Linked DNA regions of Homo sapiens: all the other regions are linked to region 2. The links come from fine-mapping of genetic effects on gene expression. A gene starts in region 2. Each other region holds a variant in brackets. All regions are shown on one strand. Distances are between the middles of the regions.

Region 1 (4,244 bases), 680 kb after region 2:
TTTCCTTGGCCCTGACGTGGGTCAGGCAACCCACATTGCTCAAGATCCAGGGAGCAGCACTTCACCGGCTGGGAGATTAATTGAAAGGATGTGTTTAACAACTAGGGTGAGTGTTAATTTGCCATTAAAGCAAAGCGAAAACGTGATGATGATAGAAATTTTATCACACCAGCTTCTCTTCTTCACCTTGGAAGATTCCGTCCTCCTTATAATGTTGACCAAGGAGTTTCTTATAAATCCCAAGGTTCCAACAGCAAGTTTTATTTTCCCATCTGTCCCACAAGATTTAAAATGCTTTAGTAAAACTGATTAAAAGCATTTATCATTATCATCAGTATTAGCAGTATTTGTTTTGTCACCATAATTTATAGAACAGTTGTGTTAAGTTCTAACATGGTCCTTTGTGGCGTTCCTCCCACTTTTATTTCTCCCACCGCACTCCAGCCCTCAGCTGCATAAAAATTTCAAGCGATGCATCGGGCCACAGGTTTCTAAAGTATTTTTGAGCCTCTGCCTCTGAAATGACAAATCAAAATATCAGTTTTGTTCTGAGTTCTAATGGAAGGCTGAGTTCTCAGGGTCCCGGTTGTATAGGGCATCCCAGCCAGGTCTGACTTTGCCACGTGGCTTTGCCCATCACAGGAAGGCAATGTGGGGACACACTGGCCCCCTTCATGTATCAAAGGGCTGTCACTTGCCCCTCACCTGAAAAACCAAACCAAGCATGGAGATTACTTTGAGCAACATCACAAATTTACCCAACCAAGTCAAGGCTACCGATTTGTGGGATAAAAAAATTTTTACCCCAAAGGGGAAAAAAAGACCTCCTTGTCAATCATCTCCTGATTACAAGCTGAGAAAATAAACTTGCTTGCAATTGTTAGCCTCTTGGTGGAGAACTGTGGAAAAGTTGCTTAAAGGAGTGATTCAGCAATAAAAGTGGAGGGGTTTGGGGGTTACAGTAAGTTTTCCTCCCTGCCAGAGCATTGTTTTCTCCACAGCTGCCTGTGAAACATTCGTGTTGTTCTGCAATTATGGCCATGATTTGTTGGTGCACTTTTATGTAGAAGTGTCTGCATCTGTTGAGGTCTGCAGCGCTACCTCTTTGACAGTTCCAGATGTTGCGAAGATGAAATACCTCCTGCTTGAGGAACTGTGCAACTAGGAGCCCCAAAAGATGTTCTGAATACAGTTTTAAAAGGCATCTGTCTTAAAATAATTTCAACATCTCGCTCGTCTATTTATAAGCCCCGTCGGGTGGTTTTTTGGGCCCTCCCGGACTATTTTAAGGGGCTCATTTTTACATCAAGATATTTTAACCATTGAAGTGACAAACCTCTGCCCTGTTTCTTTCTCTGCCCTGGGTTACCCATTAACTTGCCTTCTAACACCTTGCAATCTTTTTATATCAAGCATGAGACAGAAGGGCCTTTTCTTGGGGCATGAAGTGGGGAGGAGGCTGAAATACATATGCATGTGTATCCCTGGCCTGGGACAACTTAAGATTCACTGGTGAGGAAGCAACAAAAGGCCTCTGGGCCAGACTCCACTCTTCCCTAAGACCTCGTAACTCACCACACTGTCGGTTCTTAACATAGGAATGCTACTTGACCCTTACCAGGGCTTTGGAGGGATGTCTGGGCTTGAGTTTCTGCAGGTGAAAACCCATGCCCAGGACCACCCTTAGGAAGATCATTCTCGCGAGGTCTGGTGCAGACTAATGTTATTCTTGGGTCATTTAACTTCACTCTCAGGGAAGAGACGAAGATGGTGCTAAGTTGTAAATCACTCCCCTCTGGAATGGATTTGAGCCAGAACC[G/T]ATTGGCCTGAGCATTCCTGCCTTGCTTGACCATGGTAAAGAGATTATGGTATGTAAAATTCAGCTAAACATAGCTTGTTTCGATTTCCTACTTTCCTGGTTGTCTGTCTTGCTATGAAAGGTTAAGACCTAGGAGGGGGAGAGAAACCCACTCTGTGGAATCCCTCTCACTCCAGGGCAATATTTCCTACTCAGATGATGTCCATACATAGCCACTGTGCGAGGCTCACAGCAAGGGAAGTTGGTCCCATCAGAGAGATATTCATAAACGTGGCCTTTGGGTTGTTTTAATTGGTCAGTCTCACAAAGCAATAAAAACAGAAGGCGTCAAACACTGAAGCCTGCCTGTGGTGTAGTCTGAGTTTACAAATCCCTGCTCACATGTTTGCCATTTCATACAAAGGAAAATGACCTTCCCTTTTCCCTGATGTCATTAGCTGAGTCCAGAAACTGCAGTGACATCCTCTTAGCAGATCTGGTTGCCCTACTTGGGACTCTTCCTGAAATCCTTCAACCCATGTGGAAATGGTGCCTCAAGTCAAAGTCTCTCGAAATTTTCTCTTGTGATCCAAGTATCCAAGTTTAAAAAACAAATTATCTAAGTTAAAAAAAAAAGATTTCCTTACATCTTCTTGCCCGTTTGGCCATGTAGACCACATATGCCCATCAGCCTGCTGAAAAAAGTGGGAGTTCCTAGAGATGAGAATGGTAATAATGCACACTGTCAGCATCACTCTCTTCAAATCATTGGAAGCCCTTTTGCTTTCTGGAAAGTAAATTTGAAGCATGTGAGAGAGTAACTTCTGGCAATGGATGAGGTAAATGGTGCTCAGGCTACAGAGGCAGGTCTGCAGGTGAAAAGGCCATGGTGCCAAGACAGATGGGCCCATGCCCCACCCAGGTGCACAGAGTTGGGTGGGGGGTGGCTGCCAACATGGTCAGACAGATTTGAGCAAAGACATCCTCAAATTAAAGCAAATCCCTGCCTCTGGGGCCTTGTCATGCATTTGTCTTGCTGAATAAGGTAGAACCAGAAAGTAATTTTGATTAGCATTCTTCCAAGCTATTTATCATAGGAAATTACACCACTGCGTTGAAGACTGGGACTTTTACCAGCTATTCGTGGTTGCCTTGTTGTGATTTCACAGCGGGAGGCAGATGTGGCAGGCAGCAAGTCACCTTTGCTTGACTTCTACTCCGTTGACAGTTCACGTAGTAGGGCTCCTGTAAGAAGATATTTTAAAATTACAAGCTCAAGAAAACAAACCAGAGGCGAGAGGGTCCTTCTTCTGTTTTTCTCCCCATATTAAAGGTGTCATCAGCAAAGTTTTCTCCTCTAACAGGGGAACAAATATATCAGCAAGTCCTAACTGAGAAAAAAATCTCCTCTCATGCAAGAAACAAAAGAAATACTTAAATTGAAAGGTTTACTAAGGTTGATGGAATTTTTATTAAGAATTATTTTCCATAAAAGGAAATAGCTCTGCATTAAGATGAATATTCTAAATGTGGCATTTTTATGAACTTATAAATCTGTGCATAAGCATCTTCATACAAACCCATTCTTTTTTTTTTTTTTGCAGACAATTCATTTCTTCTTCTATTTGTTCTGCCACAGATATACTACTTCCCCAGTTATCTGAGGCAGTGATATTTGCAGCTTTGTGAATTTGCTGGAATATATAGGGGGGATAAGAAATGCTCAAAATTTCTGTTGGAAGCAGGGAATGTACTTTTCAAAATAAGTGATGCCAAACCAACAAATTATTGGCAACTTCACCTCTTATCTGACAACCTTAGAAGAAGAGAGCCCAGTGTCTAGCACTTTTACTTAAAATACTTAGAAATTGTCATTTCTTTCCCTCATCAGAGGCTTTCCTTCACTTCTTTCCAATGGAGGATAATGAGGGCAGGATGAAAACCAGAATTGGAGGAGCTGGTCAAACTCTTCTTTCTCCAAAGAGCTAGGCTCCCAGGACATAGTGAGGACAGACAGCTTGATGCAGTTAATGTAGCCAAAACACCTGCAGTTAAGCAAGCCAAAAAAAAAAATGTGTTTTGTATCATTTCAGCAATCCTAACTGGATGCCTAAAGAGAAGCTCCTACTCTAGGTTTTCAGAATACCTGTGCAGATAAGAGCTAAATCAGAGGTCTCAGAACCCTGCCATCTGGCTAAAATCTGAAAAATTCTATTTGTAAGCTGCATGATTCCCCAATATTTCCAAATAATTCTTCTATTTGAAAATATCTAAGGATCCCACCATTTGCATATAGATGTTTGATGTCATTCAGATGAAAAATCCAGTTTTACTGCACCTTAATATTGACTGGATAGATTACAAACTTGTGAAGAACAACATAACCTCCTTTGTCCAGTCACCCTGGATATCTTCATGGCTGCAGCAGCCTGGCCATCTTTGGAAA
Region 2 (4,244 bases):
TTCATGTTTTTCCAACTCTGAGCTTCCACCAGAATGCACAGGCTAACCATATCTGCATATTTACCCTCAACGCCCACTGAAAGACCACATCTTCCATGAAAACTTTCCTCAAATCTGGTCAAAGAAGACAATGGCCTTTTGTATTTCTCCTAGGGATTTTATATTCCTCCTTGTACTGCAGTAGGAGTAACTGCATTAGATATAGGAACCTTGGAACTGGTGCTATATGGTTTTTGCTTTTTAGGTTCTGTCACTACTTGCAATTAATACATATTTAAACGAAAATAAATGCCCCTCTAGGTTACAATGTTCCATAAGGATTTTCTTGAAGGCAATTTCTAAGTGTCTGAAAAAAGCTCGGTTGGAGTAGACATGAACTGGACATACAGGACTTGTATTGCTTTAAGGAAATACATGATGTCAGAACATTTTCAAATTATTGTCTCTTTTCTGAATGCTTTCTCTATTCTTTTAAAAATCATCGTCCATTCTGTATAATTGGCCCAGATCTTTCTTACTGGTAGTGTAAAAACTTACAGGAGTGAAATTTGAAAGCTACAGAAAACATTAGAGAAAACACTAAGATATAGGAAATGTTAGAGAAGCATCATGCAAATACTTGCCTAGAAACATTTTGTTGGAATTCAGATTCTTTTTCAATTTTCAGAAGTAAATGTAGATAAAAAGGTCAAAAAACAAAAATCCATCTTATCGTTTATCAGTTCAAAGTAAATGAAAGGAGTTTACCATCTGACAGTCCTTTGGAAAACTATTATGCAATTACTCTCGGCCCAGATTTCATCTAGAACATTCAAGTCCATTGTAATCTTACCACATCCATACACGTTTTGGGTTAAGCCACCTCCAAATGGAATAGCTCAATAACTAATACACTCAAGAGAGATTATTTTTTCTCTCTTTTTAAAAAGAGTTGCTTAAAAAAAACAAATTCAGGGGGCAGCTCACGCCTGTAATCCCAGCACTTTGGGAGGATGAGGCGGGCGAATCACGAGGTCAGGAGTTTGAGACCAGCCTGGCCAATATGATGAAACTCCATCTCTACTAAAAATACAAAAAGTAGGCAGACATGGTGGCATGTACCTGTAGTCCCAGCTACTGGGGAGGCTGAGGCAGAAGAATCACTTGAACCCGGGAGGCAGAGGTTGCAGTGAGCCGAGATCATGCCAGTGCACTCCAGCCTGGGTGACAGAGAGAGACTCCGTCTCAAATAAATAAATAAATAAAAATAAATAAAAATTCAGAATAGGGAAGCAACTCCTCCTTATGACGAGTACCTTTCGGCACTTATATGGGCTTGCTTTTGCATTGATGGCACCACTTTCATTCAAAAAAAAAAGTTCGCTTGCACAATCTGCAAAGATCTGTTTGGCTTGGTTTCATGTTCTAAAAGTATGGTTTTAGATTAAATGAAAAATAATACTTCTGAAAAATAAGCGGTTATAAGGTTTTTAAGTTTTCTTTATGTTGGTGTAAACTTATAAAGCCCTTCCTATGAAAACTGTCCCCCAAATCACATTACTTGGTCGTCCTCGAGGAACGATTTTGAATGAAAAGCACATAAAGTGCTGTAGCATGGAGACGAGAGACAAATAACTATGCCCTTCTCCCAAAATAAGTTATGACTTACTAGGGGAGGAAAAGGAGCAAAGAGTATAAAGCCCGGTCCTCTGCGGGAAGTACCCGGAGGCCTGCCCCGGAACGCGCTCCTTTCGGCTACGAGATGAGGGGCACGCAGACGGACGCGCCCCTCGGTGAGTGTGCGTGTATCAGTGCATGATTCCTTTACTCCGCCCACAGGGTCTGGGCATCCGTCATTACCTACGGCTGCCTGGTCAGCAAACAACAGCAGATCCGACAACCGCCAGTCACCTCGACGGTCCACGCCCACCGCTAGCCTCCAGTTTCCCGCAGACCGGAAGCCCTTTTGCCCCGGCTCGCAGGTCCACGTCTTATTGACAGCAGGAACCGGAAGCTCTTCTGCCCCGATCGCCTGCGCGCGGCCTCGTTGGCCGCACAGGCGCAGTGGAGCTCGGGCGGAGTTGTGGGAGTGGAGGAGGAAGAGGCGGTAGGGGGTACGGGGGCTGGTCCCAGAAGATGGCGGAGGCGGGGGTGAGTTGGGGGTCTCCCGGCGAAGCGCGGGTGACGTGGTGCTGAGGAAAGCGGCCTGAGGAGGAGGGTGGCCCTTGGGAAGAAGAACTACTTGTGTTTTTGCAGCCTGGGAACCCTGGTGGCAGGTGCGGGGAGCCAGGACCACTGATGGGCCTGCAGGGCAAGGGGCTCCGCTTACCTGAGAGGGGTCCGCAAGGTCCAGAAGGGGACTGCGGGATCGGGGAGGGGGTATAGGAGGGGTCGAGGCTCCCCGGACAGTGGATGAGTGTCTGAGCGGGAAGAAGGCTGGAGGACGGCGAGAAGGGCGACCCAATGGTCTGATGAGGTGGAGGTCAGCGAGCTGTCAAGCATAGAGCTGCCAGGACTTGGGGGCTTGTAGCCTGGGAGAGAAGACTCAGACTTGGGCGGGGATTGGATCCAAAGAAGACAGGTTGTCGTAGTAAGTTTATAATCCACTAAGGAGATAGGGCATTGGGTTGAGGAGTAATACTCTGGCATTTTTGACTGGAATTGGTTACCTATGGAATAGGTGTTTCGGTAAAGCCAAATAATTCTTGCCAGGGCCTAGAAGTGGATTTGATGATAATTACTAGATTTTAGGGTTGCTTAGTGGGGATTGGCAATATGGAGAAGGAAAGCAGTGTGGATTATGGGAGTGGGCGCGGGCAATGGCGCTAACACTTAAGTGATAATGACCCATGTCCAGTTAACGTTGGAAAAAGTTGTTAAAGTATGATATTAGCTAGATGCTCTAGGAAAATATACCATGAAGAACTTGCTGTTTTGTAGGATTGATGAAGAAATGCTTTAAAAAGGAATGGTTAGGCTTGGCAGCTGGGCCACTGAAACTGTTTGGTATCAGTATTGCGGTGGAGCTGAGGACTGCAGGGGAATGCGTGCTCCCGTCCTGGTGCAGAAAAAATAAAAGCAGCCAGACAGTAGCTAGATGGTGTTTTGTAACTTTTGGGTTTGGCCCTGATAGTGAACCACTGAATGAAGATGGATGAAGGGAATGCTACTAATGGGGGCCCCAAAGAAAACAAAAATCAGACGTGTGCTCTTCCTGTTTTCTGTCTTTCATTCTTTCCCTGTACTTTGTGCTCAGTACTGTGTTTTGTCATTGTGTTATGTCGTAGTTCTCAGTTCACATCTGCTGTACAGTGACCAAGCTGTGAATCATGTCCACTCGGGAAAGAGGTTGATTCTGTTTAACTGACAACTGTTGCTTTTGCAGATGGTCACACGGAAAAGGAAAGAATAAAATGCAGTTCAGTAGTTTAAAGAGTTTTCTTTGTTCTCAGAAACTTATCTCGAAACGATGGAGTAACTTTTTTAGGCACTGAGATGTGACATTTAAAACCTGTAAGGGGCTGTAAATGCAGCTAACTTACTGGTTTCTATGTTTGGGTTTTAATGTTGAGAGGAAAGAGTTGCAGTGTTTATAAGGCAAATATTGCTTTTCTTCCTAGAAATTTTTAACGTCTCTAGCCCATGATACATGTAGATGTGTTTTTATTTAGGGAGCATTAAACTGTTGCATTGATTTAAGTCTGTTTTTTTCTAATGTTAGTGCTTATTCTATTTCAAGAATGCTATTCTAATTAAGAGAGCATATGATGAAAAATATGTGAGGTAGTAATTTAACTTTATTATTTAGTAGCTTACGTGACCTAAGCACCTGAAGAAACAGGGTTATCTGAGGGAGTAAAAATACTTCTTTTACGGCTAATCATTGGAAGAGGAATGGTCTTGTCATTTGGTTTTAGGGGGTGTTGCAGTTGTTACAATGCAACAGGTTCTTAAGGTTACTAGAAGATTTTGTATGTGTGTTTGTTTTCAAATGCTTGTTGCCTCTAAGTTGTTTCAGTGGCCAACATGAACCTTGATTTTTATTCACGAAGCTCATAATCACTTATAACTCTTTTTTAACCTGAAAGTAATAATATCAATCCATTAATAGGCAGCCATACACCTGGAATAATGTTTTTCCAGTATTGATGATTCATCATTGATCTATGCAAATTATTTCAACTTTTTTTCTTTTTGTTTAGTATTGTACTTTCCAGAAATTTTAGGCCAGGGCTCAGCGTAGAATTTTTCAAGTCTGGTGGAAA
Region 3 (4,244 bases), 340 kb before region 2:
GAAGATCCTTGGTTCTGCTTTCCCTGGCAGCCACAAATCAAATGTGTTGGAAACTGAAAAGTTGCTGTTAAAGCAAGACATAGCCAATCTTTTCATTTAAGGGGAAGACTACAAGTAGAAACACATTTAAAACAGGAATCGAATCCTCCCTGGTATCAGCAAAGCAGTTAGTTCCTGAAGATTGAGAACTCCGTGCACCCAAAGTGAAAACTGACTTGAAAGGTTAATATTGACAAGGTATGGGAACTGCAGCTCTATGAACTACACAAAGAGGATTTGAAATACAGTCAATGCTTCCCACTTTATATATTTATAATTTGTTTAAGCAAATGAGAAGATAGAGTCGTTCTATATCTGATCCATAAAGGTGCAGGAAGGCATTAGCTAAGAAATCCAACTGATGTGGACAAATGGAATCTACTATGACAGGACAGAAAATGAATTTTATTCACGATCCTTACCAATTCAGTTAATACTGGATTGCATGAAGCTCCACGAGATTGTGTGTGCATGTGTGTTTTTTTTTATTCTGCCTGCTTCCCACCTGCTGTGCCTGGGAACTCCTGTGCATCTTTCCTGACTCTGCCCACCATGCCTTCCTGCAGGACCGCCCCTATCCCCCAGAGCAATGTCAGTGCTGGCATAGCAGTGCATACATATCGAGATATCATAGCATTTCTAGTTTGACATTTAAAGTAACTATATGTAAGCCCTTTGAGAGGAAATACTGTGGTACATGCATTTTGTTCCCGCAACTTGTAACAGTTTCTGGCACATAGCAGGCTCTCAATAAACACATATTGACCTGAAAATCTCTAAAGAATGAAAGTATTCTCCACATTCAATAATCTCCAAAGGTCTACATACATCAGACAAGAGGAGAAAGCAGTGAATCACTAACTCAATCCTAACTATTTACCTGGAAACTCCTTGAGGAATTAACTCTATGAAGTAAAGGTTTTTCTTTTCCCCTCAAATTCAATATCTGGCTTCTTCCTAGAATCTCCAATATCTGGGATTTCATATTAAGAATTCCTCATTAATTAAACAACAGATATCAGAATCAAAGAACTCAAGAAACAAGTCTACAATTAATTGCAGCAAGAGGATCTAATCCAACATATTTTACCTTTTCTAACATCTGTTTCCTTCTGATAAACCAAAGCTCTCAGGCCCCATTCTGGGAGCTTCTGTTGTGCCTCTTGGAGCTGGGGTGAGAAAATGCTCCACACCCTGGGTGAGAATCTCTTGGCTGTCTCAAGAACTGAGCTAAAGGTGAAGAAAATATAAACCATTTTCAGCACTTCCTTTACAAAAGCTGCTGACCTTAGGTGTCTTTATCAACTTTTTTATACCTTGGTTTTTCCCTATAGAAAGTGGGAATAATAAATATGTCCTGCCTATCTAATCCAGACTGTCAACTCCTACCCATAGTTGAACTGTCGAAGCACCACCTCAGCTGTGGAGGTTTCGACACTGCGCCTGCACACCCTCTCATTAAGGAAAATATTATAATGGACACAAATACACAGTTTGATAGAAGAATTAAGACCTAGTGTTAGAAAGATCGGTAGGGTGACTATAGTTTACCATAATCTATCGTACGTTTCAAAATAGCTACAAGAGAATAATTTGAATGTTTCTAGCATAAAGACAAGACAAATATTTAAGGTGATAGATATCCCAAATACACTTATTTGATCTTTACCAATTATACTATGTATGAAATTATCATGTATTCCTCAAAACTACGTACATCTATTATGCATCAATTTAAGAAGACTATTTACAAAAAGAAAAGTATGCAGTGGCAGTCTGCATATTCTAGAAAGAACCACAGGGATATTTCTGGTCCCACATGCTCTTCCAGGACCTTGCCTCGCTGCCCGTCAAGAGATGAAATCTATTTCTCCTCCTCTTAATCCTGAGCAAGCCTATGACAGCTTCCACGCATAGAATACATGAAATCCATGCTGCACCATATCCAAGACTAGTTATGAAAGGTGATAATGGCTTATGCCTTTCACCCTCTTTAGAGACATGTGCCTTTTAAAGCCCTGAACCACCATGTAAGAAGTCCATACACCATGAAGCCACCAAGCAAGATAAACTATATGGAGAAGCCAAATAGAGATGGAGAGAGATGGCCAAAAGTCCCCAATGGCTCCTGCTGTTCCATCAGCTATGAGAAAAACTTTGGACTATAACATCTCCCTCCCTCTCCTCCCGCAACTGGGAAGGAGCAAAGAGACCAAAGAATGACTTGGACAAGTCCAGCCTGACAAGTAGATGAGTTTATGAAGAC[T/G]TGCATACAGGGCACTCCTGGGCAGGGCAGCTCAGAAGATCCACTCTGTCTCCCATCCCTAAGCTGCTTTTAAGCTGATTTTCTGGCTCTTTGCCTCCTGTGTGTGTGTGTGATGGGAATATTTTCTTTGTTATGTCCCCAGATACTCTGTGAGATGTTTCGGTTCTCAAGGACACCTGTTCCTCGGCTGGGCACCATGGCCTTGGCTCACCACCTGGCCTTCAGGGTTCAGGCAGTGGACATACACTCCTAAGTAACCTGGTGGGAGACCTGTCACACTACACTGTCTCCCAGCTGCTTCTGTTTTCTCAGCACAGGTGCCAGACATGTTAGTGAATAAGCCTCACCCATGACCCCAGCCCGGGCCACTGCCTGACGGCAACCTTATACAGACCCTGAGCCAGAACTGCTCCACTAAATTGCTCCTGAATCCTTGGCTTGCTTTAATACATTAAGTTTTGGGATGAATTGTTACATAATAATAGATAATCAGAACAACTGGAAACTTCTATACCTATCATTTATGCCCTACCTGGAAAACTTCTATGTCCACCATGTATACCCTACCTGCCACTATAAAACAACTGTGTGTCAACCAAAAAACAGAATTTTAGACCAATATCCTTGATGAACATTGATGCAAAAATCCTCAATAAAATACTGGCAAACCGAATCCAGCAGCACATCAAAAAGCTTATCCACCATGATCAAGTGGGCTTCATCCCTGGGATGCAAGGCTGGTTCAATATATGCAAATCAATAAATGTAATCCAGCATATAAACAGAGCCAAAGACAAAAACCACATGATTATCTCAATAGATGCAGAAAAAGCCTTTGACAAAATTCAACAACCCTTCATGCTAAAAACTCTCAATAAATTAGGTATTGATGGGACGTATTTCAAAATAATAAGAGCTATCTATGACAAACCCACAGCCAATATCATACTGAATGGGCAAAAACTGGAAGCATTCCCTTTGAAAAATGGCATAAGACGGGGATGCCCTCTCTCACCGCTCCTATTCAACATAGTGTTGGAAGTTCTGGCCAGGGCAATCAGGCAGCAGAAGGAAATAAAGGGTATTCAATTAGGAAAAGAGGAAGTCAAATTGTCCCTGTTTGCAGACGACATGATTGTTTATCTAGAAAACCCCATCGTCTAAGCCCAAAATCTCCTTAAGCTGATAAGCAACTTCAGCAAAGTCTCAGGATACAAAATCAATGTACAAAAATCACAAGCATTCCTATACACCAACAACAGACAAACAGAGAGCCAAATCATGAGTGAACTCCCATTCACAATTGCTTCAAAGAGAATAAAATACCTAGGAATCCAACTTACAAGGGATGTGAAGGACCTCTTCAAGGAGAAGTACAAACCACTGCTCAAGGAAATAAAAGAGGATACAAACAAATGGAAGAACATTCCATGCTCATGGGTAGGAAGAATCAATATCGTGAAAATGGCCATACTGCCCAAGGTAATTTACAGATTCAATGCCATCCCCATCAAGCTACCAATGACTTTCTTCACAGAATTGGAAAAAACTACTTTAAAGTTCATATGGAACCAAAAAAGAGCCCGCATCACCAAGTCAATCCTAAGCCAAAAGAACAAAGCTGGAGGCATCACACTACCTGACTTCAAACTATACTACAAGGCTACAGTAACCAAAACAGCATGGTACTGGTACCAAAACAGAGATATAGATCAATGGAACAGAACAGAGCCCTCAGAAATAACGCCGCATACCTACAACTATCTGATCTTTGACAAACCTGAGAAAAACAAGCAATGGAGAAAGGATTCCCTATTTAATAAATGGTGCTGGGAAAACTGGCTAGCCATATGTAGAAAGCTGAAACTGGATCCCTTCCTTACACCTTATACAAAAATCAATTCAAGATGGATTAAAGATTTAAACGTTAGACCTAAAA

The links. PIP is the estimated chance that this variant, and not a neighbour inherited with it, causes the effect. A credible set is the group of variants that fine-mapping cannot tell apart.
Region 1: its variant is the best candidate, but not a certain one, in a credible set for the expression of INSIG2 in testis (GTEx, PIP 0.88).
Region 3: its variant is the best candidate, but not a certain one, in a credible set for the expression of INSIG2 in whole blood (INTERVAL, PIP 0.62).

What each region holds. Positions count from the first base shown.
Region 1 is chr2:118,764,124-118,768,367 of GRCh38, forward strand. No RefSeq gene overlaps it. Among named protein-coding and RNA genes, the nearest start is that of LINC01956, 70 kb to the right of the region's middle. The variant G/T (reference allele first, on the strand shown) is at 1,820.
Region 2 is chr2:118,086,412-118,090,655 of GRCh38, forward strand. INSIG2 (insulin induced gene 2) reads left to right here and starts at 2,060. Exons shown (of 6, transcript NM_016133.4): 1 at 2,060-2,130. It overlaps LOC107985940 (a long non-coding RNA gene), which reads right to left and starts at 2,020. Exons shown (of 3, transcript XR_001739662.3): 1 at 1,840-2,020. RefSeq lists enhancers at 1,765-1,814, 1,825-2,014.
Region 3 is chr2:117,746,763-117,751,006 of GRCh38, forward strand. No RefSeq gene overlaps it. Among named protein-coding and RNA genes, the nearest start is that of DDX18, 66 kb to the right of the region's middle. The variant T/G (reference allele first, on the strand shown) is at 2,306.